Homo sapiens: one gene and its partners. The protein of the gene in region 2 binds, or shares a complex with, the protein of the main gene of each other region. Each region holds a gene or a part of one and is shown on either strand. Other genes may lie near its edges. The genes, in order: SERPIND1, F2, SERPINE2 and SERPINC1. A codon is read from its position in the direction of its gene.

Evidence for each region.
Region 1: the proteins of F2 (region 2) and SERPIND1 are in contact, whole or in part, in a crystal structure (PDB 1JMO), measured with the Homo sapiens proteins. Residues at the interface, in NP_000497.1 of Homo sapiens: Lys384 (codon at 1,322), Ser385 (codon at 1,319), Pro386 (codon at 1,316), Gln387 (codon at 1,313), Leu389 (codon at 1,307), Leu390 (codon at 1,304), Cys391 (codon at 1,301), His406 (codon at 1,256), Cys407 (codon at 1,253), Tyr410 (codon at 1,244), Pro412 (codon at 1,238), Trp413 (codon at 1,235), Asp414 (codon at 1,232), Lys415 (codon at 1,229), Leu423 (codon at 1,205), Arg425 (codon at 1,199), Ser430 (codon at 1,184), Thr432 (codon at 1,178), Arg433 (codon at 1,175), Tyr434 (codon at 672), Lys440 (codon at 654), Ile441 (codon at 651), Ser442 (codon at 648), Met443 (codon at 645), Asn458 (codon at 600), Leu459 (codon at 597), Lys470 (codon at 564), Trp511, Ala513, Asn514; in NP_000176.2 of Homo sapiens: Glu75 (codon at 4,578), Asp76 (codon at 4,575), Asp77 (codon at 4,572), Asp78 (codon at 4,569), Tyr79 (codon at 4,566), Leu80 (codon at 4,563), Leu82 (codon at 4,557), Ile85 (codon at 4,548), Phe86 (codon at 4,545), Asp89 (codon at 4,536), Asp91 (codon at 4,530), Val305 (codon at 118), Glu306 (codon at 115), Met307 (codon at 112), Thr308 (codon at 109), His309 (codon at 106), Gln327 (codon at 52), Asp343 (codon at 4), His361, Lys362, Arg388, Thr457, Val458, Gly459, Phe460, Met461, Pro462, Leu463, Ser464, Thr465.
Region 3: the proteins of F2 (region 2) and SERPINE2 are in contact, whole or in part, in a crystal structure (PDB 4DY7), measured with the Homo sapiens proteins. Residues at the interface, in NP_000497.1 of Homo sapiens: His406 (codon at 1,256), Tyr410 (codon at 1,244), Pro412 (codon at 1,238), Trp413 (codon at 1,235), Trp455 (codon at 609), Arg456 (codon at 606), Glu457 (codon at 603), Asn458 (codon at 600), Leu459 (codon at 597), Glu509, Thr510, Ile542, Asp562, Ala563, Cys564, Glu565, Trp590, Gly591, Glu592, Gly593, Cys594; in NP_006207.1 of Homo sapiens: Val225, Arg288, Ser355, Ala356, Thr358, Thr359, Ala360, Leu362, Ile363, Ala364, Arg365, Ser366, Ser367.
Region 4: the proteins of F2 (region 2) and SERPINC1 are in contact, whole or in part, in a crystal structure (PDB 1TB6), measured with the Homo sapiens proteins. Residues at the interface, in NP_000497.1 of Homo sapiens: Leu389 (codon at 1,307), Leu390 (codon at 1,304), Cys391 (codon at 1,301), His406 (codon at 1,256), Cys407 (codon at 1,253), Tyr410 (codon at 1,244), Pro412 (codon at 1,238), Trp413 (codon at 1,235), Asp414 (codon at 1,232), Lys415 (codon at 1,229), Trp455 (codon at 609), Arg456 (codon at 606), Glu457 (codon at 603), Asn458 (codon at 600), Leu459 (codon at 597), Asn506, Thr510, Trp511, Thr512, Ala513, Asn514, Val515, Gln519, Arg541, Ile542, Asp562, Ala563, Cys564, Glu565, Gly566; in NP_000479.1 of Homo sapiens: Lys258 (codon at 2,606), Glu264 (codon at 2,588), Asn265 (codon at 2,585), Arg267 (codon at 2,579), Tyr285 (codon at 2,525), Glu287 (codon at 2,519), Gly288 (codon at 2,516), Lys289 (codon at 2,513), Glu345 (codon at 2,345), Met347 (codon at 2,339), His351 (codon at 2,327), Ala419, Val420, Val421, Ile422, Ala423, Gly424, Arg425, Ser426, Leu427, Asn428, Pro429, Asn430, Arg431, Val432, Lys435.

What each region holds. Positions count from the first base shown.
Region 1 is NC_000022.11:20,777,113-20,784,112, reverse strand, and holds part of SERPIND1 (heparin cofactor 2 precursor), read right to left. Parts: intron 4,817-7,000; 5' UTR 4,801-4,816; coding exon 3,912-4,800; intron 142-3,911; coding exon 1-141. UniProt on the Homo sapiens protein: Thrombin inhibitor activated by the glycosaminoglycans, heparin or dermatan sulfate. In the presence of the latter, HC-II becomes the predominant thrombin inhibitor in place of antithrombin III (AT-III).
Region 2 is NC_000011.10:46,722,034-46,729,336, reverse strand, and holds part of F2 (prothrombin preproprotein), read right to left. Parts: intron 6,158-7,303; coding exon 6,052-6,157; intron 5,956-6,051; coding exon 5,819-5,955; intron 3,479-5,818; coding exon 3,164-3,478; intron 2,840-3,163; coding exon 2,711-2,839; intron 2,627-2,710; coding exon 2,500-2,626; intron 1,342-2,499; coding exon 1,174-1,341; intron 674-1,173; coding exon 500-673; intron 1-499. UniProt on the Homo sapiens protein: Thrombin, which cleaves bonds after Arg and Lys, converts fibrinogen to fibrin and activates factors V, VII, VIII, XIII, and, in complex with thrombomodulin, protein C. Functions in blood homeostasis, inflammation and wound healing.
Region 3 is NC_000002.12:223,974,449-223,980,493, reverse strand, and holds the end of SERPINE2 (glia-derived nexin isoform b precursor), read left to right. Parts: intron 1-93; coding exon of another isoform or gene 94-96; coding exon 97-183; intron 184-2,866; coding exon 2,867-2,950; intron 2,951-4,589; coding exon 4,590-4,627; 3' UTR 4,628-5,449; downstream 5,450-6,045. UniProt on the Homo sapiens protein: Serine protease inhibitor with activity toward thrombin, trypsin, and urokinase. Promotes neurite extension by inhibiting thrombin. Binds heparin.
Region 4 is NC_000001.11:173,907,328-173,914,342, forward strand, and holds part of SERPINC1 (antithrombin-III isoform 1 precursor), read right to left. Parts: intron 4,688-7,015; coding exon 4,472-4,687; intron 3,565-4,471; coding exon 3,427-3,564; coding exon of another isoform or gene 3,304-3,426; intron 2,616-3,303; coding exon 2,225-2,615; intron 188-2,224; coding exon 123-187; intron 1-122. UniProt on the Homo sapiens protein: Most important serine protease inhibitor in plasma that regulates the blood coagulation cascade. AT-III inhibits thrombin, matriptase-3/TMPRSS7, as well as factors IXa, Xa and XIa. Its inhibitory activity is greatly enhanced in the presence of heparin.

The DNA of each region.
Region 1 (7,000 bases), on a different chromosome or scaffold from region 2:
TGTCGCAGTCCAGCTCCTGGTCATTTGCTGCGAGGAAGTTCCCCTTGGTCTGCATCATGGAAACCTTAACTACCTCTCTCTCATTCAGCCGGAAGTTGTGGTTGTGTGTCATTTCCACTGGGAATTTATTCACCCAGGATCCTGTAAAGGCCACAGGAAGAGGCTGTTATGAGAAGGTTCCTTTAGGGAAATCGTCTCACCCTTGAGAGTGAATCTGATTTCCCTGGAGGCCTCATTCAGATAGCCTGCAGAGCCGACCCCACAGTCTCTTGATTCCTGAGGCCTGATTTGGGCAGAAATTTGCATTTCTAACAAGAGAGGTTAACGAGAGGTTACCCGGACTGGAATAGTTTCTGGAGTAGGGTCTGATACGAACTAGTTGTTTGACCATGGTAAGGCACCTAACTCGCTTCTATTTCTTCATCTGTCACATCTGTCAAATGAGTAACTTTGAGCTCTTTCCAGCTTTTATTACTGTTATTATTATTTGGTTTTTGAGACCAGGTCTCACTGTGTCATGCAGGCTGGAGTGCGGCGATGCCATCATAGCTCACTGCAGCCTCACACTCCCAGGCTCAAGGAATCCTCCTGCCTCAGCCTCCCTCCCCAGTAGCTTGGACTACAAGCACATGCCACGCCTGGCTATTTTTTCTTTCTGTCTTTTTTTTTTTTTTTTTAATTGTAGATGGGGTCTTGCTATGTTACCTAGGCTGGTCTCAAACCCTTGGCCTCAAGCAATCCTCCTGCCTCAGCCTTCCAAAGCACTGGGATTATAGGCATGAGCCACCCTGCCAGCCTCAGCTCTGTCTTGATGGCCTTCATCCCTCACACTGTGATTCTGTAGTGACTAACAAGACATTTGGGTGATGCCATGTTGCCCTTAGGATCACCACTGTAGATATGGGGACAGTGCTGTGTATCCAGGAATAAGCCCATGTCTATGTTAGCTCTAAGATGTGAGTAACTAATAGTAATGGGTGACTAGTAGTTGAGAACTGGCCATGTGCCGGGCATTCTTCTCAGCACCTTTCCTGTATTATCTCATTTCTGCTCCTAGCAACATGCAAGTTGTGTGCGTTTTGTTATCCCTCTTTTACATATGAGGAAACAGAGGCACAAAGAAGTGAAGTAACTTGTTCAAGGTTTCTAGCTGGTGGGTAGAGCAGCCAGGATGAGATGAGCAGGAGGTGTCTTGGAGGTTGAAGTACCAGACAGCTCCTGCCTGCCTGTGAGTGAAGCTCGATTCCCTTCTCCCTGAGTCTGCCTCACCCAGGGTTTCTCAACCTCAGCATTTTTGACATTTGGGCCACATAATAGTTTGTGGCAATGTGGGCTGCCCTGTGCATGGTAGGGTGTTTAGCAACATCCCCAGCCTCCCCCTTCTAGATACCAGTAATGCTTACTCCAACCCCCCAGGTTGTGACAACCAAAAGTGTCTTCAGACCTTGGGGACAAAATTGCTCTTTTGGGAATCACGGCCCTTTCAGTTTGGATGGAGCTGTCCCATGTCTCTTGGGATTCTTTCCTTCTGACTTCCTCATGAGAGCCTGCCTCTGTTTATTGTGCTTTACAAAGTGATTATCACATTAAAATTAGAACAAAATTAGTAATGGAGATGATTCCATATGAAATTAAGTGAAATTAAAATTACACTTCTAGACACTCGTCCCCTTTGAGAAGCATCCATGAATGATTGGGTACTCCTAGCATTTGATCCCTTGTGATGCCCGGCATTGAGTGACTATTCTCATGATGGGGAAAGGAAGCAGAAGCATTTGCACGTGTGTTTACACTGTGGTATGACACGGGTTACTGTGTTTAGGAGATTGTCAACTGACCATGCCTGATCATTTCTCCACCTCCATGCAGGCAGGGATGGCTCACTGCTGTACTTCTCTGCCTGTCCCTGAACCCTCAGCCAGGGCTAATGCAGAGGCTCTTTGGTGTACTTGGGGGGCTCCAACAGACCAGTAGGTTGGAGGACTTTGATGCTGCCAAAAATGCTTCTGCCAGCCTGTTCTAAAGTCAGTCCTAAACATAGGTTATTTGCTAGTAGAAGTAAAATAAATGTCACTAACAATATCATATGTTTATCATATTGTACTAGTATTGTAATCTACAGTTTCATTCCCTCAAATTCGCTGAGCTCTTGTCATGTGCCACTCTGTTGCATTGCCATCGCTTATGGTTCTTCCCTCGGCCCTGTCAGAGTGGGTGTCATCTCTGTGATAAAGATAAGGAAACTGAGTCATAGAGATGTTGAATGACTTGTCTGAGGTCACACAAACGAGAAGTGGTGAAACCAGCGCTTAGACTCTTGTTTGCTCAATTCCAAAACTTGTACTAATAACCTGTAATGAAAAGGATATGTGTGTTCATCATGTACATGTGGTCTCTGTGTGTGTGTCTGCCGCAAGCCTGTTAGAACTCAGCCTTTGATTCCACCCACAGGAGGCCAGCATTGTGCCATGCCTTGGGGTGGAAACCTGGGTGTCAGAGTGACCCTGCTTGGCCTATCCAGCAGAATGCCTGCCTTGTAGAGCTGCAGGGGCCTCAGCCAAGGCACAGAGCAGGTGTGTGGACAGATCAGGAGGGGCTCTGGCCCCCTTTCCCTGAACAGAAGCCAGGAGCTGGGGGGGGTCTCCTTCCTTCGCCTGGGCTGCTATAAAACCACGGGAGCTAACTAGCAGAAAGCACTGGCCTCCAAGTACTGCCCTTTGCAGGTACCTGGTAGTCCTTGGTGGCAAAGAGAAGTGGTTGTGTGTCACCGCAATTAGTCCTGAAGCCGAACCATTCCTCGTGTTTCCCCTTCCACACTCTCAGCTTAGAGAGTAAAGTAGAGGTTTCTTCTGGTCTGGTCCAGGTGAGGATATTTGAAAAGAGAGGTTTGGATTTTACAAATCCATGCTTATTTATTCCTAGGATTCCAGGGGTCCTATGTGTGTGTGATGGGTGTGGGGTGACCTCCTTAAAAAGTGCCCTTGTGCTCAGCCCAGAACAGTTGCTGGGGAAATAGTAATTTATTTCTCCATCCCACCTGCCCAGTAGTTCAAAAGTATCCTGAAAAGCACTTGTAGGTGTCAATGTCAGCTGCTCAAGCTGAATAGTTCACAGGTGCATTTCTTTAGCCTTTTGTCTATATTCCTGCTTATTGATAATTGGGAAAGGAAAAGAGAAAACTCAAATCCAGGCTGGCCAAATGCTAAAACAGTTTTTGTATTATTTCTTCCAATTTAACAGATTGCTAGGGTTGGCCTCCCTGGGTTCAGCTTTGGCTCTGCCCCTTAATAACTGGGTGCCCTTGGAGCATCGTTTTACTTCTTTTTTTTTTTTTTTTGAGATGGAGTCTCACTCTGTCGTCCAGGCTAGAGTGCAGTGGCACAGTCTCGGCTCACTGCAATCTCTGCCTTCCAGGTTCAAGTGATTCTCCTGCCTCAGCCTCCCAAGTAGCTGGGAGTACAGGCACCCACCGCCAGGCCCAGCTAATTTTTGTATTTTTAGTAGAGCCAGGTTTTCACCATGTTGGTCTGTTGGTCAGGCTGATCTCGAACTCCTGACCTCAAGTGATCTGCCTGCCTCGGCCTCCCAAAGTGCTGGGATTACAGGCGTGAGCCACCGCGCCCAGCCCATCCTTTTACTTCATGTGTTGGTGGCTTCCTCTGTAAAATGGGGATGCTAATAACAGTGATGACCTCACAAGGCTGTGTTAAAGCACAGAGTTAGGGCTCAGTAAGTGTCAGATGCTACTGTCACTTCAGCTTGGCCTTCCCTGTCCCCGTTCCAGAGTCAATCTTGTGTCTAGTTTTCCTGGATAAATTATAGCTACAGTACAGTTCTTGGCATTCAATCTACCCACATACAAAAATAGTATGTTGTGGGTTTGCTGTGAGAACTGTAAAGGTGCCTCTTACCTTTGAAGTAGATGCAGTTGAGAATCATCATCTGGGTAGCAGGGTCTATATTCTCCAGAGCATCTTTTATGAGGCCCTTGGTGAGCTTCATGATGTGGTTGTTGGTTTTTGATATGAAGGCAGGGTCTGAGAAGTCAGCTATCTGGGCCTCAGCAAAGTAATACTCTCTTACTTTAGTTTTGAAGTCAAGCAGGATTGGAAACTGCTTCTGGATATAAAGGTCATTGACTGACCGCAGTGTGTACCCAAAATTCCTCCTGAAGAGGCGATGAGTCAGCTTACGGAAGAGATTATGAATGGTCGTGATTTCATACTTGCTGCTGGCATTAACAAAGTCTTTAAAATGCAAAATCGAGTGCACTTGTTCATGGGTCTCTCCCTTCAGACCTAAGGAAATCATACCCATCGCAGTAGAAATGCCAACGGGTGCTATGAAGATGTTATCGAAAGTGTTGACCTGGTCTTTCAGCACTCGGTAGAGGTTGAAAGCGAACTTGGCGTTGAGGATGTTAAGACGCTGGATCCGGCTCTTGCCATGAAAAAGCTGGAGGATGTTCCCAGCACTCACATCAGAGTCTGTCGGGGAAACTGACAGACTGTCGACGATGTCGATGTAGTCGTCGTCTTCACTGAATATCTTCTCCAGGTCCAGATAGTCGTCGTCCTCCTCCCCCTCTGGAATCCAGTCGTTGGTGACGGTGTTTTCCTTGTGGAAGTCGGCAGGGAGAAGAGGCATGCTCAGGTTTTTGTTATTTAACTGCTCCCACTGGGGATCTGCAGACTGAGCAGTTTCCCCTCCTTTCTCTAGCTGATCCAGCGGGCCTTTGCTCCCACCCCACGCAGATGTTATGATGAGGAAAATGAGAAGTGCGTTTAATGAGTGTTTCATTTTGGCGGAGCTAAAGCTGGGAGGGAAAACAGAACACAGTGAAAGGCGGCCTGGCTGATCCACACCCCGCTGCAGCATCCACATGGCAGGTTCCCTGTGGCTTTGACCCAGGAAGAGGCCCTCACAGCATTAGTTCTTAACTGTTTTAGGATCATGGACTTTAAGAGAATCTGATGTAGATAGACACCCAACCTTTGATGTGGGACTCATAAACCTCAATGAAGGATCTGTGGGCCCCTTGATGAAAATCCCTTCTTTAAAGGTTTGCAAAACTAACCTTCTAGAATCCTGGGAGCTCAGGCATCCCAGGGAGGAGTTTGTTTTTCTCCAGACACCTTGTCCACCACCTCCAGACAGTGTTTAGTTACCAGAGACAAAGTTCCCACCAGGGGCTCATGGACCAGTCAGGGGACAGATGGGACAGACGTGCAGTAAAGCGAAGGCTCTCAAAATAATGCTGCCAGAGCACATGGGGGTACGGAAAGGGGTGTGGCTCTACCCTGTGTGGTAGGAGTGGAAGTGCCCAGAGAGTCAGGGAAACCTCACTAAGAGCTGGGCTTGAGTGGGCACCTGGGGCTGGTGATTGGAGAGTACCTAGAAGGGATGTGCATTAGTGGGACTCAGCCATGCCTGTGTGACTCACACCATTCCACCTTTGCAATGGAGATGCTGTTGAAAAATGTCCATGGGCCAGGCTTTCTGAAAACATATTCTAAAGATACTTGAAATTTGTGCAATCTTTGGGGTTGTTTAATTCGTTGTTTTTTTGTTGTTGTTGTTGTAATTGGCTTTTGTTGTTTTTATTTTTTGAAATGGAGTCTCACTCTGTCACCCAGGCTGGAGTGCAGTGGCGCGATCTCGGCTTACTGCAACTTCGGCCTCCTGGACTCAAGCAATTCTCTTGCCTCAGCCTCCCAAGTAGCTGGGACTACAGGTGCACACCACTACGCCTGGTTAATTTTTGTATTTTGTTTAGTAGAGATGGGGTTTTGCTCTGTTGGCCAGGCTGGTCTCAAACTCCTGACCTCAGGTGATCCACCCACCTCAGCCCCCCAAAGTGCTGGGATTACAGGCATAAGCCACCACGCCTGACCTGGGGTTGTTTAATTTGCAAAAGATTTGGAACTTGTCTAGTGCTGAGACCCCCTCAGGGCGTAGTGAGGTGATGTGGTGGCAGCCCCAGAGGTGATATCACTTGCTGCAGGTATACTTTTTTCTCCTTTGTATCTCTTAGACAATAGCTCCCACTGCTGTCAGGAGCAACTAAATCTTCTGTGTTACTGCTTCTAACACAGGGTTAGAAACAAGAGATAAAGTCTGTGTGAGGGTGATGTCAGCAAGCTCTTACTCAAGACCTGAGGGGCACTCCCTTTATTTAAGTAAACAAGATAAGCTTTTAGCACAGAGGCATTATGGCAATCCTGTCTTTATTTGTTCCTCTGACTCGTTCAGAGGAGGATCTGACTTGGCCTGTCAAATCTGTTTTGACTGCCAAATCCTTTGTCTTTCTCTTGCTTACTTCCTGGTTATTAACTGCACTCTGGTTAGATGAGCTTTGATGATTCCATGTTTTGCCAGGACAGTGACCATAGGTGTTTATAATGCTGACTCAGACAGGTAATACATGGTCCCAACTTCTAATCACCCCAGAAAGAACTGCCGGCCAGGCGCTGTGGCTTACGCCTATAATCCCAACACTGGGAGACCAAGGCAGGAAGATCACTTGAGCCCAGGAGCTCAAGACCAGTGTGGGCAACATAGCAAGACCTCATCTCTGTGAAAAATTAAATAAATAGGCTGGGTGCGGTGGCTCAGGTCAGTAATCCCAGCACTTTGGGAGGCCGAGGTGGGCGGATCATCTGAGGTCGGGAGTTCGAGACCAGCCTGGCCAACATGGAGAAACCCTGTCTCTACAAAAAATACAAAAAAATTAGCCGGCGTGGTGGCGCATGCCTGTAATCCCAGATACTTAGGAGGCTGAGGCAGGAGATTCGTTTGAATTCAGGAGGCAGAGGTTGTGGTGAGCCAAGATCGCACCATTGCACTCCAGCCTGGGCAAAAAGAGCGAAACTCCGTCTCAAAAAAAAAAAAAAGAAAAGAAAAATAATTAGCCTGGTGTGATGGCACACGCCTGTGGTCCCATCTACTTGAGAGGCTGAAGTAGGAGGATCACTTGAGTCTGCAGTGAGCCGTGATCACG
Region 2 (7,303 bases):
GGAGCCGCCTGGCCCCAACGCCATTTCTTAGAGACCAGAATCTAAAACGCCAGAGCTGGCTGGGCACAGACGTTCACGCCTGTGGTCTCGGCACTTTGGGAGGCCGAGGCGGGTGAATCACTTGAGGTCAGGGGTTCGAGACCAACCTGGCCGACACGGTGAAACCCACCAGTCTCTACTAAAAATACAAAAATTAGCCTGTAATCCCAGCTACTCAGGAGACTGAGGCAGGAGAGTCGCTTGAACCCAGGAGGTGGGGTTGCAGTGAGCCAAGATCGCACAACTACACTCCAGCCTGGGAGACAAGAGTGGAACTCCGTCAGTAAATAAATAAATATAAATAAAAAATAAAACGCCAGTACTGAAAAGAACTTTTGGGTTCACTCCAAGAAACCGAGGCCTGGAAAAGGGAAAGGGGCTCTTGCAAGGCTACTTGGTATCAGAGCCAGGCCCAGAACTTGGCTTCTGCCCCTCAGCTAACAAGCATCTGGTGGCCCACCTGGCTGCCGTCTCCCTGTCGGGCAGACACACAGGGTGAATGTAGTCACTGAAGGCAACAGGCTTCTTCAGCTTCATCAGGGCAATGTCCCGGTCCAGGTTCTCCCGCCAGTTGTACCTGGGGTGGATGTAGATCTTTTCCAACATGGATATCTTTTCAATGTTTCGCTCGTACCTGCAGAGACCCCAAGAAAGAAATGGAGAAGCTGCAGGTTCACCCAGCAAGGAGCAGGAAACTGCCTGCCCTTGGGGTCTGGGAGACAGTGTGTCCTGCAGGCCACCAGGGAGGGGATAGGGCTGGTTCCTGCCATGGCAGCCCCCTGGGTGTTTCTTCCTGGGCCTAAAGCCGTGCAGGGCTTTGGAGTCAGACAGCCTGGAGGACGGGGACAGGGGCACAGGCTGCACGCCCTAGTCCAGACAGACTCTATTTTCAGAGACTCCCACATGGGCTATATCCTAGTGTTGGAGGGACCAGGAGACAGACGGATTTCTCCCCGCAGCTCCAAGCCTCAGTCAGGACGTGACCAAATGGGCTTTCCAGCAGAGACTGCTGGGATGTTATATTCTGGGGGGTATACAGAACATCCTATGTGTCCCGGAGCCACCAGGGCCCCTCATGATCGCTTTGGAGGACTCAGACCCCTGCCAGACACCCACGGGCCACCAGTTCTGTACCTGGTGCGGGAGTGCTTGCCAATGCGCACCAGAAGGTCATTCTCGGTGAAGTTCTTGTCCCAGGGCGGGTACAGGAGGCAGTGGGCGGCGGTGAGGACCCAGCGGTCACTGATGAGGCTGGCCCCACACAGCAGCTCCTGGGGACTCTTCCGGAAAAGCATCACCTGCCTGGGAGGGGCAGCAGGAAGCATTAGGAGCTGAGGATGAGGGGGCTGCCTCTACACCAGCCCTAGAAGTAACAATCCCAGGTCTAAGAACCCAGCTGGGCAGAGCTGCCTCCGGGGCCCAGATCCAAGCTTGGGCTGGCCGCCTTTGGGGCCTGGAGCCTCCGTGTGATGCTGAGGGGCTGCCTCACACTTTTTTATTTATTTATTTATTTATTTTTGAGACAGGGTCTCACTCTTGTCACCCAGGCTGGAGTGCAATGGTACAGTCACAGCTTACTGAAGCCTCAGCCTCCTGGGCTCAGGCGATCCTCCCGCCTCAGCCTCCTTAGTAGCTGGGACTACAGGGACATGCTGCTACACCTGGCTAATTTTTGCATTTTTAGTAGAGACGGGGTTTTACCATTTTGCCCAGGCTGGCCTCGAACTCCTGCCCTCAAGTGATCTTCCTGTCTTGGCCTCCCAAAGTGCTGGGATTACAGGGGTGAGCCACTGCACCTGACCTGCCTCCTGCTTTTTGCACCCCCTAACTAGGTCCTTCCAGTCCAGAGTTCACATAGCGTAGCACAGCTCTGGAATCAGAAGAACTGGATTCAAACCCATTAGCTGTGCGCGGAGGTGAGCCACCAGCTCCGTCAGTCTCAGCTTTACCATCTGCTTAGAAGTAAAGGACCCATGGGCCGGGTGTGGTGGCTCATGCCTGTAATCCCGGCACTTTGGGAGGCTGAGGCAGGTGGATCACTTGAGGTCAGGAGTTCAAGACCAGCCTGGCCAACATGGTGAAACCCTGTCTCTACTTAAAATACAAAAATTAGCCGGGTGTGGTGGCGCATGTCTGTAAATTCAGCTACTCAGGAGGCTGAGGCAAGAGAATCGTTTGAACCCGGAAGGCAGAAGTTGCAGTGAGCTGAGATCGAGGTAGTGAGCCGAGATTGCAGCACTGCACTCCAGCCTAGGTGACAGAGCAAGACTCCATCTAAGAAACAAAAAAAAAGAAGTAAACAACCCATCTCATGTGGCTGCTGTGTGGAGTTGGTGGGATCCTGGATGCTCAGCTGTTGTCATCTGTAAAGCCCAGGCCTGCAGGCAGGGCCTGAGGGTGGGGGTCCAGCAGCACACCTGCCCCCAGGAGTGAATGGTAGCGCAGGGCTCCAGGACACACCAAGGTGACATGCCGATCTCTGCATCCGAGCCCTCCACAATGCGCCCGTCGATGTAGGATTCCAGGAGCTCTCTTTCGGTTTTGTCCTCCAGCGACTTCTTCTCGAACAGAGGTCGCAGCCCACAGTCTGCAGAGCAAGCCAAGCAGTGAGGGGCAAGTCCTGGCCACCAGCCCCGCAGCCCCGCATCCCCTCGGATGCCCACTACCTCACCTGCCTCTCCCGAGCCAAAGGTCCTCGGATTGAAGAAAGTCTGGTACTCACTGGTGGCGGTACGCCCTTCGATGGCCCTGTCTGAGTCCTCATCCAGCCCATCTCCTGTCTCCTCCTCCACGGCCTCCTCTGTTGGGACCCAGGCACCGGCTGGGACTGGGCTGGGCCATTCCTCACCCATCCCCTAGATCCCCCCAATTCCCCTACGGGCCTTGGAGGCCATTTGGTGCAGAGGTTAAGCGTGCATGCACAGTTGGGCTACTAGGCAATAACCTCCTGGGGCCTCAGTGTACTTATCTGTGAAATGGGCACAGGACCTTACCCCCCACCTGGTTACTGTAAGGCTGTAATGAGCGCACTCAATGAGGTAAGCGTTCGATAAGCAGAAGCGGCTGTTGTTATTCCCACCAGGATTTGTCCCTGCAACTCAGGCCCCCTACCCAGGCAGCTCACCACAATAGTTGAGGTCGCAGTACCCAAAGTCGCCAGGCTTCCCGGCCACATAGCACCACACGCCCTCCTCATCCCCGTCTGGGTTGCGGCAGAAGTTCTCCACCAGCTGCACAGCTGAGTTGAAGTCCTGGTGCTTGCTCAGGGCCTTGGCCTGTGCGCTGGCCCAGGCCAGGCAGGGGAGCCCATGTGTGGTCACCGCCAGGCGCCCCTGGTACTGCTGCCCCCGATCAGGGACACACTGCTCCAATGGAGGTGACAGATTCACACTGGAGCCTTCGGAGCGTGGAGTCATCGCTACAGTGACTTGATCCTGGCCTGGTGGGTGAGGGGCAAGGAGGCAGCAGAGTGAGTGAGACCACACATGGACCGGAACAGACAGGGGTGTGAACCCCGGTCTTGCTGCTTTCTGCCTGTGTGACCTCAGGTTACTTAACCTCTCTGGGCTTCTGACCGTTTGCCTTTAAAGGGGTTACTAATGCCACTTTTGCAGGTTTGTTGAGAGGATTAAACAAAATATACAGCATAAGTGTCTGGCACATAATAAACCAGAGATAGTAACCAGGTTTGGCCTCCTAGGCCATCTGTAATTAACTGGTAGTGGCTGCCTGGAGCTGCTGGAGGAGTCATGTTTTTATAGCTGCACAGCAGGACGCTTGCTGGGATCACTAGGCTGTTCACCTGGATGGGTCAATTTCTGCAAGCCTGCAACTTATTTATCATCAATGTGTGTGCGTGTGTATGGGGGTTGGGGAGTAAATAGTAGCTGTTTTTGTTGGGATAAACTTGCTATAAGACCAATTCCAGGGGCCAGGCGCAGTGGCTTACACCTGTAATCCCAGAACTTTGGGAGGCCGAGCTGGGCAGATCACCGGAGGTCAGGAGTTCAAGATCAGCCAGGCCAACATGAAGAAACCCCGTCTCTACTAAAAATACAAAAATTAGCCAGGCGTGGTGGCGTGTGCCTGTAATCCCAGCTATATGAGAGGCTGAGGCAGAGAATCGCCTGAACCCAGGAGGTGGAGGTTGCAGTGAGCCAAGATTATGCCACTGCACTCCAGCCTGGGTGACAGAGTGAGACTCCATCTCAAAAAAAAAAAAAAAAAAGGCCGGGCGCAGTGCCTCACCCCTGTAATCTCAGCAGTTTGGGAGGCCGAGGCGGGAGGATCACAAGGTCAGGAGTTTGAGATCAGCCTGGCCAACATGGTGAAACCCCGTCTCTACTAACATAAAAAAAAATTAGCCAGGAGTGGTGGCACACGCCTGTAATCCTAGCTACTCAGGAGGCTGAAGCAGGGGAATCGCTTGAACCCAGGAGGCGGAGGTTGCAGTGAGCTGAGATAGGGCCACTGCACTCCAACAGCCTGGGCAAGGGAGTGAGACTCCATCTTAGAAAGAAAAAAAAAAAAGACCAACCCCAGGAATGAGCAATGGGCCCGACAGGGATGCCTAGAGAACAAACACTAACCCATGTTTGTGGACTGGTAATCGGCACAAATTCTTTACCCCTGCCTGCATCCACATCCCTTGCTCTGTGATTTTACAGGCTGAGGTGTAGTTTACCTCTTGACCCTGGCCTTGAACATATACTTGCTCTGGCCAATGGAACGTGGGCAGGGCTGACTGTGCCTGTTCTGAGCCAGGCCTTCAGGACAGAAGACGCTTTTCTGTTCATTGTTTTCTGTGTCTGTCATCAGCATAAGAAGAGTTTTCCCAGGTACCTTCTTTCAGCCTCAGCCCCAGCATGAACGCACGTGGAGCAGATCTAGGCCCAACCCTCAACGAGGAGCCAGACTCAGCTGGACCCATTATTTGAATCAGAGCCACCCAGCCAGGGCCAACCTCCGTCAGTTGACCCTACAGACGCATTAGCGAGTGCAGCCACACCTGCCAACCCTCATGGGAAAAAGAAATGCTTATTGTGGTCTGCCTCAGGGAAGGGGTGGCTATAGCTACTTAACACACCAAGGAAATAATAATGACAGAATCCCGCAGGGCCAAACTGCACAAGGCTTGCTCTGTGATACTCAGAACAGGGTGTGTGGACTGAAATGGCTAGGGAGGGCTTCCCGGAGGGAGGAGTGCCTTGATCAGAAAGGAGGCATGTTTGGAATGAGCCACAGCCTGGACCATAAGGAAGTCAAGAGTGGGGAGGGGGAGGAGGAGGCTGGCAGATCCCCCCACTCAGATCCCCTGATTCCCTGACTTTACTGAGCAATAGGCACAGATATGATCTGAATGACTGACGCCAGCTCTGAAGGTGGCCAGCATCTTTTTTTTTTCTTTGAGACAGAGTTTTGCTCTTGTCGCCCAGGCTGAAGTACAGTGGCAGGATCTCAGCTCACTGCAAACTCCGCCTCCCGGGTTCAAGCGATTCTCGTGCCTCAGCCTCCAGAGTAGTTGGGATTACAGGCGCCCACCACCACGCCTGGCAATTTTTGTATTTTTAGTAGAGACGGGGTTTTGCCATGTTGGCCCAGCTGGTCTCAAACCCCTGACCTCAGGTGATCTGCCTGCCTCAGCCTCCCAAAGTGCTGGGATTACGGGCATGAGCCACTGTGCCTGGGTAGCCAGTATTCTTGGTTCCCATCCCAGGCTGCCAGGCCCCATGAAGCCCCCGGGCCTTGGCCATGGGCCGCCCCACTGCCCCCAGCTTACCACAGACAGGGATGCTGCATTCCTGCCTCCTCACGGTGGGGTCTGTAGTGTAGCACCAGGGTCCCGTGGTGCTGCTGTCGGGGTTGCGGCAGAAATTCTCCTGTAGGTCGGCCCCAGGATGGGTAGTGGAGTTGATTCTGGAACAGGAAATTGCCCAACAGGAGGCTGTTGGGCTTGAGGTACGCTTGCTCCCTGTTCTCAGCCCATGGTGGGAAGGCCGGCCCCTCACTCACTCAGGCTTATGTGGGTAGCGACTCCTCCATAGCTGGCACTCAATGCCTGACCGGGTGATGTTCACATGCCCTCGGTAGTTCGTACCCAGACCCTCAGCACAGTTACCTGCGGAGACCCCACCCCGGTCAGCCTTGGAGCCTGGGGACTTATTTCCTCTCTCCCTGCAAAGTTGTCTATCCCCCACCTCCCAGCTCATGCAGGTCCACAATCCTGAACCTGCATTCACCCAGCCCCTCTTCCTCTGCAACCAGCAGTTCTCCCATTCACTCAACAGTGGCCTCCAAATATTCGCTAAGTGCCTACCATATGACAGGCACTGTCGGGTGCTCAGTACACATCAACCAATAGGACAGTCACAGCCCTGCCCTCATGGAGCTTCCATTCTGTGGCTTCTCTTGGCCAGCAGGATGAAAAAGTGATGAAGGTCCTTTTCAACTGGCCCTGGTCTACCTGTCCCTGCTAGCTCAGCTTCTCATGCCTCTGGGTCTTTCCACGGATTGTTTCTTCTGACTGGAATGCCCACTTGTTTGTTCATCCATGCATCCCACCAGGCCAGGCAGAACTCTGCCTCTCCTGGGAAGCCATCTCTCATTTTTCTGGCAAACCAGACACTCATTTTCCTGTGGTCTCTTGGTGCCTTGAACAGAACTTTTCTTGCAATCACTTTATTGAATTATTTATTTTTATTTATGTATTTTGAGATGAGTCTTGTTCTGTTGCCGAGACTGAAGTGCAGTGGCATGATCTCAGCTCACTGCAACCTCTGCCTCCCAGATTCAAGAAATTCTCCCCCATCAGCCTCCCTAGTAGCTAGGATTACAGGCGCGTGCCACCACACCCCAGCTAATTTTTGTATTTTTAGTAGAGGTTGGGGGTTTCACTATGTTGGCCAGGATGGTCTCAAACCCCTGGCCTGGGCGCCCACCTCAGCTCCCAAAGTGCTAGGATTACAGGCTTGAGCCACCACACCCGGCCGCAATCATTTTAATATTTTGTATTTTTGTTCTCTTTTGAGATTTTGAATTCCTTGAAGGCAGAGACTGTATTTGATTCTCTTAAAATCCCCAGCACCTGATATAGTGCCTGGCACGTAGCAGGAACTTTGTAAAATGTCTGTTGAGTACGTAATTTAACAAATGAGGCTGGGCGCAGTGGATTACACCTGTAATCCCAGCACTCTGGGAGGCTGAGGCTGGTGGATCACCTGAGGTCAGGAGTTTGTGACCAGCCTGGCCAACATGGTGAAACCCC
Region 3 (6,045 bases), on a different chromosome or scaffold from region 2:
ATTTGCCATGGCTTTGAGCTTTGAGGTTACTTCCCCAACCAACCAATGGCCTGCCTATCAAACAAATGCTGATACTGTTTTATTTTCTGGAAGCAGGGTCAGAAAACCTCCATGTTTCTCATATCTTGCAAAAAGCAAAAATTGAAGTCAGTGAAGATGGAACCAAAGCTTCAGCAGCAACAAGTAAGCACTGGGTCACGTGGCAGGGCTTCCTCTAGCAGGGGAGCAAACACATTCCTGTATACTCATTGGTTGAGCAAATATGTAATGCACCCTCTTTCCAGCCAGGCAGTGTGTGTGGGTTAACCCTCAGGAGACAGCAGTGAGTACAGACAGACTGAAGACCTGTAACCACAAAGCTCAGAATCTGTTTCATTAAAGAAAAGCATTTCAGTGAGAGAAATTCCTCTAGGACAGGAGTCAGCAAACTTCTATAAAGAGCCAGGTAGTATGTATTTCAGATTTGTGTGTCATACCATCTCCATTACAGCTTCTTAGCTCTTTCACTGTAGCATGAAAACAGCAATCAACAATACAAGTAAACAGATGTGGCTGTGTTCCAATAAAACTTTATTTATAAAAACAGGATTTGTCCTGGTAGACTTGCCTTGAGGAAAATAGTTTGCTGACCCCTGCTCTCAGGAGGATAAAACATGTTCTGGCTTCTTACTGGCAAAAAAGACCAATCTTCAGATTTGAACATAAAATAAACAACAAGTACTTAAAGGAAAATAGGCAATCAGGTCTATCCAGGATAAACCGAAGAATTCGCCAGCATCTGTTGAATTGCGGCAGGATTGCTGTACAGCCTTCCTTGATAATTAGAACATCCACATCTGCTTCCTCCTCAGTGGTTTACATAATGAAGGAGAAAACAGAACAATCGTAAGTCAGTTTTTTCACCCCTCATTATCCGTAGGAAAATAGATGAATAGATTTGGCCAACTCTGTGAGCCCATAAAGTGAAAATCTTAGCTACACTTGCAGCTGGGTCAAATATCTCTGGTCATTGAAACATACCAGTTATACTCACAATAGATGTGTTATTGCCTTTCTCGAATAAACGTTTTAAAAATTCCTTTAAAGAAGCATTTAAAACAAAGACCCTGAAATAAGAGGGTTGGAAATTTTAAGATGCTTTTTGTCTTTTCTAGGTAATTTTAAGTAACATCTAAAAGTTATTGACCAGTTTTGCTGAGTGTAACTATCAGGACCAGCTACATAGTTTGTGGGGTCCTGTGCCAAATGAAAATATGGAGCCCCTTGTTCAAAATGTATAAGAATTTCAAGATAGCAACAGCAGAGTATTAAACCCAGTGCAGGGCCCCATGTAACCGCCCAGGTCCTCCTGTCTTAGTCCGCCTGGGCTGCCATGACAAAATACCGTTGACTGAGTGGTTTAAACAACAGAACTCACACTTCTGGAGGCTGCGAGTTCAAGATCAAGGTGTTGGTGTTGGCAGGTTTGTTTCTCCTGAGATCTCTGGATCTCCGGAGGTCGCCCCCTCCCTGTGTCCTCACATGGTCTTTTCTCCATGTGACACATCCCTGGTGTCTCTCCCACTTCAAATAAGGGCAACGGTCCTATTAGAATAGAACCCTACTTAACCTTCATTACCTCCTCAAAGGCATTATCTCCAAATACAGTTACGTTAGGGGTTTGGGGCTTCAGCATATGAATTTGGGGGGAGACACATTTCAGTCCATAACACCTGCTATTTAATATTTGTTTTTAATAACCCTGGGTAAAAGGGCTTGCCCCAGCATAACTGCAGCTGTTTCCTTTATAACATCAAGCCCAAGTGTTCAATACTTCATGGGGTTTGAGCAAGAGGACTGAGCTATTGCAACAGGCATGTGGTAGTAATGCCACACACCTACCCTCCCGTGAGGCCCTGGTTCAGGCTTATTAAATGGAAACAAGCCTGGCAGACGAGGAATGGCCAAGACCCATGAGGCTAAAGAAGTTTGCTTTCCAAGTCAGATGCCTACACCTGGTGAGTGGAACAGCAGTATAAGGTAGTAGGTCCCGGATGAGTGGTCTACATTCCAGTGCAGAGGAAACCTAAATAATGTGCCAAAGGAGAAGGCACAGACACAAAAGCTAAGAATTGGACTGGGCCTTTATATACAGAAAAGATTTAGAGAAGCTAAACAGGACCAGGGGTCGGGCGCGGTGGCTCATGCCTGTAATGCCCGCACTTTGGGAGGCTGAGGCAGGTGGATCACTTGAGGTCAGGAGTTCAAAACCAGCGTGACCAACATAGTGAAACCCTGTCTCTAAAAATACAAAAATTAGCCAGGCGTGGTGGTGCATGCCTGTAATCCCAGCTACTCAGGAGGCTGAGGCAGGAGAATCGCTTGAACCCGGGAGGCAAAGGTTGCAGTGAGCCAAGATCGCGCCACTGCACTCCAGCCTGGGTGACAGAGTGAGACTCCATCCCCAAAAAAAAGGACTGGGGGCTTTATCAGCAAAGCAGATGGTGTGAATAAAAAATAGCTAATAACAATAAATATGCATTAGATGTGTTTAGTGGCAAACACTGTTCTAAGAGCTATAATATATCTTATGTCATTTAATTATGTCATTTAATTCTCATCAAAACTCTATGAGGAGTAAGTATGTTTATCAGAGATGGTGCTTGTGTAGAAGACATGAGAGAGTAATGTAAAGGGCCTGGCCCAAGGTAGGCTTAGTAAATGGTGACCATTGAGCCTGTTGTAACATGGCCAGCCTATGGAACAAGCATGAAGTGTGTCTTCAGACACCAGCCTCTGAGGGTCCATGAAGCTAGCTAACTTGCTGGCCTTATGCTTACATGGTCTCATGTAATGTGCACAACACATTTTCCTTTTCTTCCCGTAGCTGCAATTCTCATTGCAAGATCATCGCCTCCCTGGTTTATAGTAGACAGACCTTTTCTGTTTTTCATCCGACATAATCCTACAGGTAAGTGACTCTCCTCTTCCATCATGCCCTCTCTGTTAGAATTTCAAAAGGTATATTGCACTCTTCATTATATCCAACAGTGGTGCCCATAGTCCATTTCCCTAATGTCAATAGTTGCAGACACTTTGAATAATATAACCACCCATGTTAAAGAGATAGGAAAATAAAGGCTGTGTTTACAGATGTGATGGAATCTTTTACACACTGACAGGATTTTAGGTTTTGCGGATTGTTGTTTTTAACAGAGAGGCTCAGCATCCCTTTGGAACACTTTTGACATCTATTGACTTTTCCATATTTATATAAATGTGGTGGTTCAATTTTGCTAGAAGCTATATAACTTCAACTTTTGTGTATTAGTCTGTTCTCACCCTGCTATGAAGAAATACCCTAGAGTGGGTAATTTACAAGGAAAAAGAGGTTTAATTGACTCACAGTTTCACATGGCTAGGGAAGCCTCAGGAACCTCACAATTACGGTGGAAGGCATCACTTCACAGGGCAGCAGGGGAGAGAATGAGAGCCGAGTGAAGTGGGAAACCCCTTATAAAACCATCAGATCTCATGAGAACTCACTCACTATCACAAGAACAGTATGGGGGAAACTGCTCCTATGATTCAGTTTTCTCCACCTGGTCCTGCCCTTGATATATGGGGATTATTAACAATTCGAGGCAAGATTTGAGTGGAGACACAGAGCCAAACCATACCACTTTGTAAGCCCACTCTATTGTTATACCTTGGGAATTGTTAATACAGTAGATTTTTGCTCTGTGAGTCATGGTTCAAACTTGGCTCTGGCCTTAAGCCTCATCTTTAAAATGAGGACAACAGTAGTGCTGACTGCTTATTACAATTATGAAGTATAAGTTCATCTTTGTAGAGAGGTTGGCTTCTTGTTGGTACAAGAGTAGGCACTAATATATTTTAGCTTTTACTATTTTATTTAATCAGTAATATGAGATAGTTCCTTATTCTCTTATCTCATTGCATCTGTGATGTTCTAATTGGCATGCCCCAGAACTGAGCCAGCCAATGAGGAGCTTCTGGCCACATGTGGCTATTTAACATTAACTTTAAAAATTCAATTTCTGGTTGGGTGCGGTGGCTTATGCCTGTAATCCCAGCACTTTGGGAGGCCAAGGCGGGTGGATCACCTGAGGTCAGGAGTTCGAGACCAGCCTGGCCAACATGGCAAAACCCCATCTCTGTTAGAAATACAAAAAATTGGCTGGCAGTGGTGGTGGGTGCCTGTAATCCCAGCTACTTGGGAGGCTGAGGCAGGAGAATTGCTTGAACCCAGGAGGCGGAAATTGCAGTGAGCCGAGATGGCGCCATTGTACTCCAGCCTGGGTGACAGTGCAAGACTCTGTCTCAAGAAATAAAAAATAAAATTAAAATTCAACTTCTAAGTCACACTAGCCACATTTTAAGCACTCTCTGGCCACATGTGACTAGTGGCTACCATGCTAGACAACAAAGATATAGACCATCTCTACCACTGCAGAAAGTTATACTGGACACTACTGAGCAAGAGGTCAAACATGATTGTTTCCCTTCCCTTAAATAGAATACCTTCCATCTTATTTTAAGGATTATTAATTTACAGAGTCATGCATTGTTTTCTTTTAATTCTGTAGGTGCTGTGTTATTCATGGGGCAGATAAACAAACCCTGAAGAGTATACAAAAGAAACCATGCAAAGCAACGACTACTTTGCTACGAAGAAAGACTCCTTTCCTGCATCTTTCATAGTTCTGTTAAATATTTTTGTACATCGCTTCTTTTTCAAAACTAGTTCTTAGGAACAGACTCGATGCAAGTGTTTCTGTTCTGGGAGGTATTGGAGGGAAAAAACAAGCAGGATGGCTGGAACACTGTACTGAGGAATGAATAGAAAGGCTTCCAGATGTCTAAAAGATTCTTTAAACTACTGAACTGTTACCTAGGTTAACAACCCTGTTGAGTATTTGCTGTTTGTCCAGTTCAGGAATTTTTGTTTTGTTTTGTCTATATGTGCGGCTTTTCAGAAGAAATTTAATCAGTGTGACAGAAAAAAAAATGTTTTATGGTAGCTTTTACTTTTTATGAAAAAAAAATTATTTGCCTTTTAAATTCTTTTCCCCCATCCCCCTCCAAAGTCTTGATAGCAAGCGTTATTTTGGTGGTAGAAACGGTGAAATCTCTAGCCTCTTTGTGTTTTTGTTGTTGTTGTTGTTGTTGTTTTATATAATGCATGTATTCACTAAAATAAAATTTAAAAAACTCCTGTCTTGCTAGACAAGGTTGCTGTTGTGCAGTGTGCCTGTCACTACTGGTCTGTACTCCTTGGATTTGCATTTTTGTATTTTGTACAAAGTAAAAATAAACTGTTATGAGTAGTAAAAATAAAGCTATTTCTCTGCTATTTGAAAATACAATAGAAGAAACTGAGCCTTTTAGACATTCGTCAGCCTCTTCTAATAAACCTTTGTACTATGTAAACATCAGGAAATTCAAAGCTCGGAGACTTTTCCTATTCTTTTCCTCTAGACCTGACAATCAAACACTTCCCCGCTTCAACACATCTCATTTTCTAGATCACTTCAACAGAGTAACTATTACAGTAATCCTAGTTCTACTCTTAGCTACATTCACTCCAGCAATGGCTAAGAATTCTCAGCAAAGAAACGGATTTTGTAGCAAGTGCCGAATGAAGTTGCTGGGTACCATGTATTTTGGAACTCCTGGGGGAACAGGAACTGTTTCGTTTTTGGTGATGATAGGCAGGAGTGTTTTTGAAATGACAGGGTTTTTTTGTTTGTTTTTTGTTTTTTTTTTGTTTTTTTCAAGGTAACTTTCCAAGTTGAACTCAAACATCATAATTCTTTTTTTCCTTTTTCTTTTTACAGAGACATGCCTCGCCATCTTGCCTAGGCTAGTCTTGAACTCCTGACCTCAAGTGATCCACCTGCCTCAGCCCCACAAAGTGCTGGGATTACAGGCATGAGCCACTGGCATTCAGCTTACAAATATCATAATTCTGATTTTACCATTTGCCTGCTTTTTAAAAAACTAATTTCTTAAAGATTTATGCAGTCTAAGCTAAATCAGAAT
Region 4 (7,015 bases), on a different chromosome or scaffold from region 2:
TTATAGCAGGCCTGTGGAGGCCTTTTGCATGCCTTAACACTGGAAACAGGCCTTTTCCACGTGTTCCTGCTGTTCATGCATCTCCTTTCTGTACCCTAAGAGAGTGGGGAAGGTGTACTCACCTCAAGAAATGCCTTATGGAATGCATCTGAGACATAGAGGTCATCTCGGCCTTCTGCAACAATACCTGGAAGGAAGACCGGAGAAGTCTTTGTGAGATGGGAGAAAGTTGGCTTCAACCCACAGATGGGAATTCAGTTTGGATTAAGAGATCCTTTGGGGCTTTTTGAAACATAAGAAGAAATCCTAAATCTTCACCTAATCATACTCTCACAATGAATATGTGTTAAAAATAATAAAGTACTTTGGGGGCTGGGTGCAGTGGCTCACACCTGTAATCCCAGCACTTCGGGAGGCCAAGGTGTACAGATCACCTGAGGTCAGGAGTTGGAGACACTCTAACTAATATGGTGAAACCTTGTCTCTATCGTGAAAATACAAAAATTAGCCAGGTGTGGTGGCGCATGCCTGTAATCCCAGCTACTTGGAAGACTGAGGCAGGAGAATCGCTTGAACTCGGGAGGTGGAGGTTGCAGTGAGCCAAGATCACGCCACTGCACTCCAGCCTGGGCAACAAGAGCAAAACTGCATCTCAAAAATAATAATAATAATAATAATAATAATAATAATAATAATAATAAAAGTACTTTGGGCTTGTTCAGCATGGCTCCTGATAATTCATTCTCAGGCTTCAGCTTTTTGTGGGAGAGAGAAACGGCAAGACTCTGTTCTTACAGAAAAAACTCACTCCATCCAGAAGGAACATCTTTCTTTCCAGTCTGGCAACATTTTTAGTTTTCAAAACTAGCTTAAAGACAGCCCAATAGCACAGTGGCTCACGCCTGTAATCCCAGCACTTTGGGAGGCCAAGGCAGGTAGATCGCCTGAGGTCAGGAGTTCAAGACCAGCCTGGCCAACATAGTGAAACCCCGTTTCTACTAAAAATGCAAAAATTAGCCGGGCGTGGTGGCAGGCGCCTGTAATCCTAGCTCCTTGGGAGGCTGAGGCAGGAGAATCACTTGAATCTGGGGGGTGGAGGTTGCAGTGAGCCAAGATTGCACCACTGCACTCCAGCCTGGGGGACAAGAGCAAGACTTCGTCTCAAAAAAAAAAAAAAAAAAAAAAGGTCAATAAAGATAAATCTAATTACTTAACATCGTAAACTTATTTTATTATTTATTTATTTATTTAGTGATAGGACCTCACTCTGTTGCTCAGGCTGGAGTGCAGTGGTGTGATCACAGTACACCACAGCGTTGACCTCCCGGACTCAGGCAATCCTCCCAGCTCTGCCTCCCAAGAAGCTAGGACTACAGGTGTGCGTCACCATGCCTGGCTAATTTTTTTTATTTTTTGTAGAGACCATCTCACTATGTTGTCCAGGCTGGTCTCGAACTCATGGGCTTAGACGATCCTCCCACCTCAGCCTCCCAAAGTGCTGGTATTACAGGCGTGAGCCACCCTGGCCAGCCAACTTCTTTAAAAGATATTTTAATGTGCCAGGTGCGGTGGCTGACGCCTGTAATCCCAGCACTTTGGGAAGCCAAGGCAGGCGGATCACAAGGTCAAGAGTTCAAGACCATCCTGGCCAACATGGTGAAACCCATCTCTACTAAGAATACAGAAATTACCAGGTATGGTGACGTGTGCCTGTAATCCCAGCTACTCAGGAGGCTGAGGCATGAGAATCGCTTGAACCCGGGAGGCAGAGGTTGCAGTGAGCCGAGATCGCACCGCTGCACTCCAGCCTGGGCAACAGAGTAAGACTCTGTCTCAAGTAATAATAATAATAATAATAAATGTCAGTGAGGCCTGTGTAATGGGAACCACATTTCCCCAGCTCTTAATATCTGTCTCTTTGCTCTGAATTCCAATGCCCTTTCAAATTCCTCTCCACCTGGTCCCATCTCCTCTACCTGATACAGACTCACAGGGCACCAGTGCTAGCTGGGCCCATGGAGATCCAAGAACAAACTTCCCTTTTACAGAAGAGGAAACTGAGGTCTCAAAAGGAAAAGAGATTTCCACAAATTAGCAGTAGAAACTAGGATCAGTATCCAGGAGTCCTGACTTGTTGCTCCTTTCTATTCTTTCTCCAACTCTTCCACTTTTGGTCAGACTACCTTGCGGGTGGAGAAGGGAGGAAACTCCTTCCTAGACAAACCTGGGAGTTTGGACTTTTCAGGGCTGAACAGATCGACAAGGCCCATGTCTTGCAGCTGCTCCTTCAAACTGAAGCCGTCCTCAATGCGGAAGCGGGGCATGTGGACCACCAGCATCATCTCCTCCAATTCATCCAGCCACTCTTGCAGCACCTCTGGGGTGAGTTCCTTCTCTACCTTGGCCAGGCTCTTCTCAGGCTTGGGCAAGATGAGGACCATGGTGATGTCATCACCTTTGAAGGGCAACTCAAGCACCTGGGTGCCTTCAGCCACGCGCCGATAACGGAACTTGCCTTCCTGGTACATCATAGATGCTGAACACGACTCTCCATCAGCCTTGTAGAACAGTTCCTTCCTTGTGTTCTCAGGGCTGAACTTTGACTTCCACAGGCCCTGGAAGAGAATCACAAAGTAAGAACACAAACATTCATAGGAGGATAGTTATTGACACAAGACATATCCATATTATAGTGTTACATTAATATATAATTATTCGGAAAAAAGACTGGCGGGATATGCACAAAAAGGTTAACAATGGCTGTGTCAGAATGATGGAATTATGAGTAGGTTTATTCATAACTGTCAAACCTTGGAAGCAGCCAAAATGTCCTTCAGTAGATGAATAGACAGACTGTGGTACATCCAGACCAAATGTAATGCTATTCCATGCTAAGAAGAAATGAGTGACAAAGCCACGAAAACACAAAGGAACAGTAAATGCATTTTACTAGGTGAAAGAAGCCAATCTGCCGGGCGCGGTGGCTCATGCCTGTAATCCCAGCACTTTGGGAGGCCGAGGTGGGCAGATCACGAGGTCAGGAGATCAAGACTATCCTGGCTAACACGGTGAAACCCCGTCTTTACTAAAAAAAAACCAAAAAATTAGCCAGGCATGGTGGTGGGTGCCTGTATTCCCAGCTACTTGGGAGGCTGAGGCAGGAGAATGCCGTGAACCCAGGAGGCGAAGCTTGCAGTGAGCCGAGATCACGCCACTGCACTCCAGCCTGGGCGACAGAGCGAGACTCTGTCAAAAATAAATAAATAAATAAATAATAGATTGACCTGCCCTGCTGACCTGTACCTGTGTAGCTTTCGGCAGTCCATTTGCCCTCTCAGGGCTTCGGTCTCGCCATTTAAAAAAAAAGGGGGTAAGCTGAAGAGCAAGAGGAAGTCCCTGGGGTCTCTCCAGGGCCATTCTGAGTACCTTGAAGTAAATGGTGTTAACCAGCACCAGAACAGTGAGCTCATTGATGGCTTCCGAGGGAATGACATCGGTGATTCGGCCTTCGGTCTTATTGGACACCCATTTGTTGATGGCCGCTCTGGATTGCTCTGCATTTTCCTGAGGAGAACAGAAAATAAACCTACTCACCTGTGCTATTCAATTGGCTTCTCCATTTTCCCAGGCAGCATTTTATTTTTCTCACCATCCCTCTGTCCTTTCCCACCATTTGATTAAGAAGCCATTGCTCTAACCCAAATTGGGGAAGCCTCACATATCTAATATAGTTCCATGAATCTTTCCTGTAGTTAATAAATATTATCAGAAGAAAAAGAACAAAAAGAAATAGGAAGAAATAAATGAAAAGAAGGAAGGCGAAAATAGTCTGGGAAAAAGAAGATAAAATATTATTTTCTCTGACTTTGGAAAACCTTAACTCACAAAAGTAGAATTTCCAAGGCATGTGCCAGGGGAAGCAATGAATGATTGCAGGTTATATGGGGTTGGCAGGTTATATGGGGTTGGCAGGTTATATGGAGGAGAGAAATGCCCATGCAGTCAAATACATTTGAGGAATGCCGATTGAATAAAGCCAACAGATTTCTTTGTTGCAGAGTTTCTCAGAACCTTCATAGGCCCATGTGCTTCATGAATCTCCAAGAGGAGAATGTAACATGCATCATGTACCAACTTTATTTGACCATGATAACAGTTCAAATTAAGTAAGATATCTTGTAGAACTGGCATCTTCAAAACACCCTTTGGTATATATTTGAAGTTGGTGGATGGAATGAAGAATTGATTATTAATTCATGTTTTCTGGGCAGTCACTACAATCCAAGCATGGATACCTTTGATTTCTCAGGTTTCAAGTAAGAATAACTATTGCAGGGGTTCTAACTTTTAGTCAGCCCTCCAGCAGTCTTCAGCAGCAAAGCAGTGTGAATTTGGATGCTGTTTCTCCACCTCCTCAATCTCTGAGTGGAGAGGAAGAACTCGGAGGTCAGGGGTAACATCTGCAACTCACCTTGAAGTCCAGGGGCTGGAGCTTGGCTCCATATACCAACTCACTGATGTCCTGGTAGGTCTCATTGAAGGTAAGGGATTTGTCTCCAAAAAGGCGATTGGCTGATACTAACTTGGAGGATTTGTTGGCTTTTCGATAGAGTCGGCAGTTCAGTTTGGCAAAGAAGAAGTGGATCTGATCAGATGTTTTCTCAGATATGGTGTCAAACTTAAATACCTATAGAAGTCAAAAAAAAATGGTGGTGGGTTTGGTGGGCTGCCTAGTTAACATGGGTGGTGAGCACATGCTGGTCAGTCTCTGACTAATAGCCACCTCAGTTGTTAACTCCTTCAAGCACAGTACCTGGGACAGCATAAATGCTCAACTCTTGTGTTCTGATGAATAAAAGGATAAAAGAAGAATGAAGGGTAGGAAGGATAAAGGGAAAAAGAGAGACTAGGTTGCCACCTAAAGTCTCTAAACGCCTCTAGATCAACACACAGACGTTTTCTTGCTGGAATGGGAAAAGTCCTCTTGGTGATTCTGGACAGAGAAGAGAATCAGGACGGTGTCCTTCTCGTAACAAACACTTTTGTGGCATCTACTGGGGCCAGCTGCTCATGGAGGCTCTGGGATACTGGTGGTAGGGGTGAAAAAGGAAGAGTGAATCTATCAGCAAGGGATTAAACAGGCTCAGAATCTAAGAGCTCAGGGCTGAAAAGGACTTAGAAGTCATCCATGCTTTGAAGTTGGAATCCCCCAATGCCCACCTTCACCATCCCCAAGGCAAAATGGGTGAGGCTGTTCCCCTCCTGCCCTTTCCATGCTCTCTCCTCAGGCTACAAAAGGCCTTTTGGTTTTATCTGTTCTCTGCCTTTGGTTTTCCTGATTTTGCTCCAATAGGCACTTTTTTTAGGGGGGGATTATGCTTTTGATCAAAAGCTTGGTGCTGAATCTCTCTTTTCTCCAGAGAGATTCAGTCTCACCCTGCTTTCCCAACACATGGCGTTTGTGTAGAGGGGAGGACCAAAGGAACATGTGTGGTTTGGAAGCAGTGTTCTGTTCTGTTCTTCTTGTAGGAAGGGTTACATTTAAGATCTTACCTGGGGACAGAGACATGAGTGATATGGAAGTACTTTGAGACCAGTACCAATGTATACAAAAATGACTGAAGGGCCCAGAGAAGGCAGTATTATGTGTCTTCAGAGTTTTTAAATCTACAATTTCTTTCAAAGAGTGAAGACTTGGGTTAACTCACCCCAGAGCCCTGAGCAAAGGTGATGAAGTTCCATGGAAATTGACCACTAGAATAGAAGGAACCCTCCTAAGACCCACAGACTTTAGTGTCCAAGTTTCAAATAAGCACCGTATACCATCTTGAAGGGACTCATGCCTCCCTATTGATGAACTCTGCTTCCAAAGTGTGATCCAACTTGAAGAAAGACTGTCATGCAGCCAAGCCAAGGACAGATTAAAGATCTAGTGTTTCCATCCATGACTTGTCATAGCCCCAGAGGCCAACAGTGATCAATCAATCTATGACATTTCATCTTATCATGCCCTACTTCCCTCCCACAAAAGGCAGTGGGGGGAAGGGGGTGGGAACTAAGTCACTGAGCTGAAATGATCCATACTTCCCAGAGCCAGAAAACACTCTCACGTCCTTGAGGCTTCTCTTGGCTTTCCTGGGCCCCTGGTCTCAATATACCATCCTAGGCCCCGTGCAGTGGCTCATGCTTGTAATCCCAGCACTTTGGGAAGCCAAGTCAGGCCGATCCCTTGAAGTCAAGAGTTTGAGGCCAGGCGCGGTGGCTTACGCCTGTAATCACAGCACTTTGGGAGGCCAAGGCAGGTGGATCACGAGGTCAGGAGTTCAAGACTAGCCTGGCCAACATGGTGAAACCCCATCTCTACTAAGAAGAAAAAAAATTAGCCAGGCATGGTGCCGGGGGCCTGTAATCCCAGCTACTCGGGAGGCTGAGGCTGAGAATTGCTTGAACCCGGGAGGTAGAGGTTGCAGTGAGCTGAGATCGTGCCACTGCGCTCCAGCCTGGATGACAGAGCGAGACTCCGTCTCAAAAAAAAAAAAAAAAAAGTTTGAGACCAGTCTGGCCACGTGGTGAAACCCCATCTCTACTAAAAATATAGAAATTAGCTGGGCGTGATGGCGTGTGCCTGTAATCCCATCTACTCAGGAGGCTGAGGTGGGAGAATTGCTTGAACCTGGGAGGCAGAGTTTGGAGTGAGCCGAGACTGCACCACTGCACTCCAGCCTGGGCAATAGAGCGAGATTCCATCTCAAAAAAAAAAAAATACTATCCTAGAATTTTTTTCCACGAGAGCCTATATGCCTGATGTCACCATATGGTAAAGCTACTCTTCTTCCACCAGAGGAGGGACTGGCACTACACATTGCCTGGCACAGAGGAAGTGCTGAATGAATAAATAAATAAATGATCAAATTAATGAGTAAACATATAGATGAAAGAATTACTGAAAAGAAGTTGAGAGAAGATACAAGCCTTCCCCCATTTTAAGGTGCTCAAAAGAGGAAACCAGGATTTA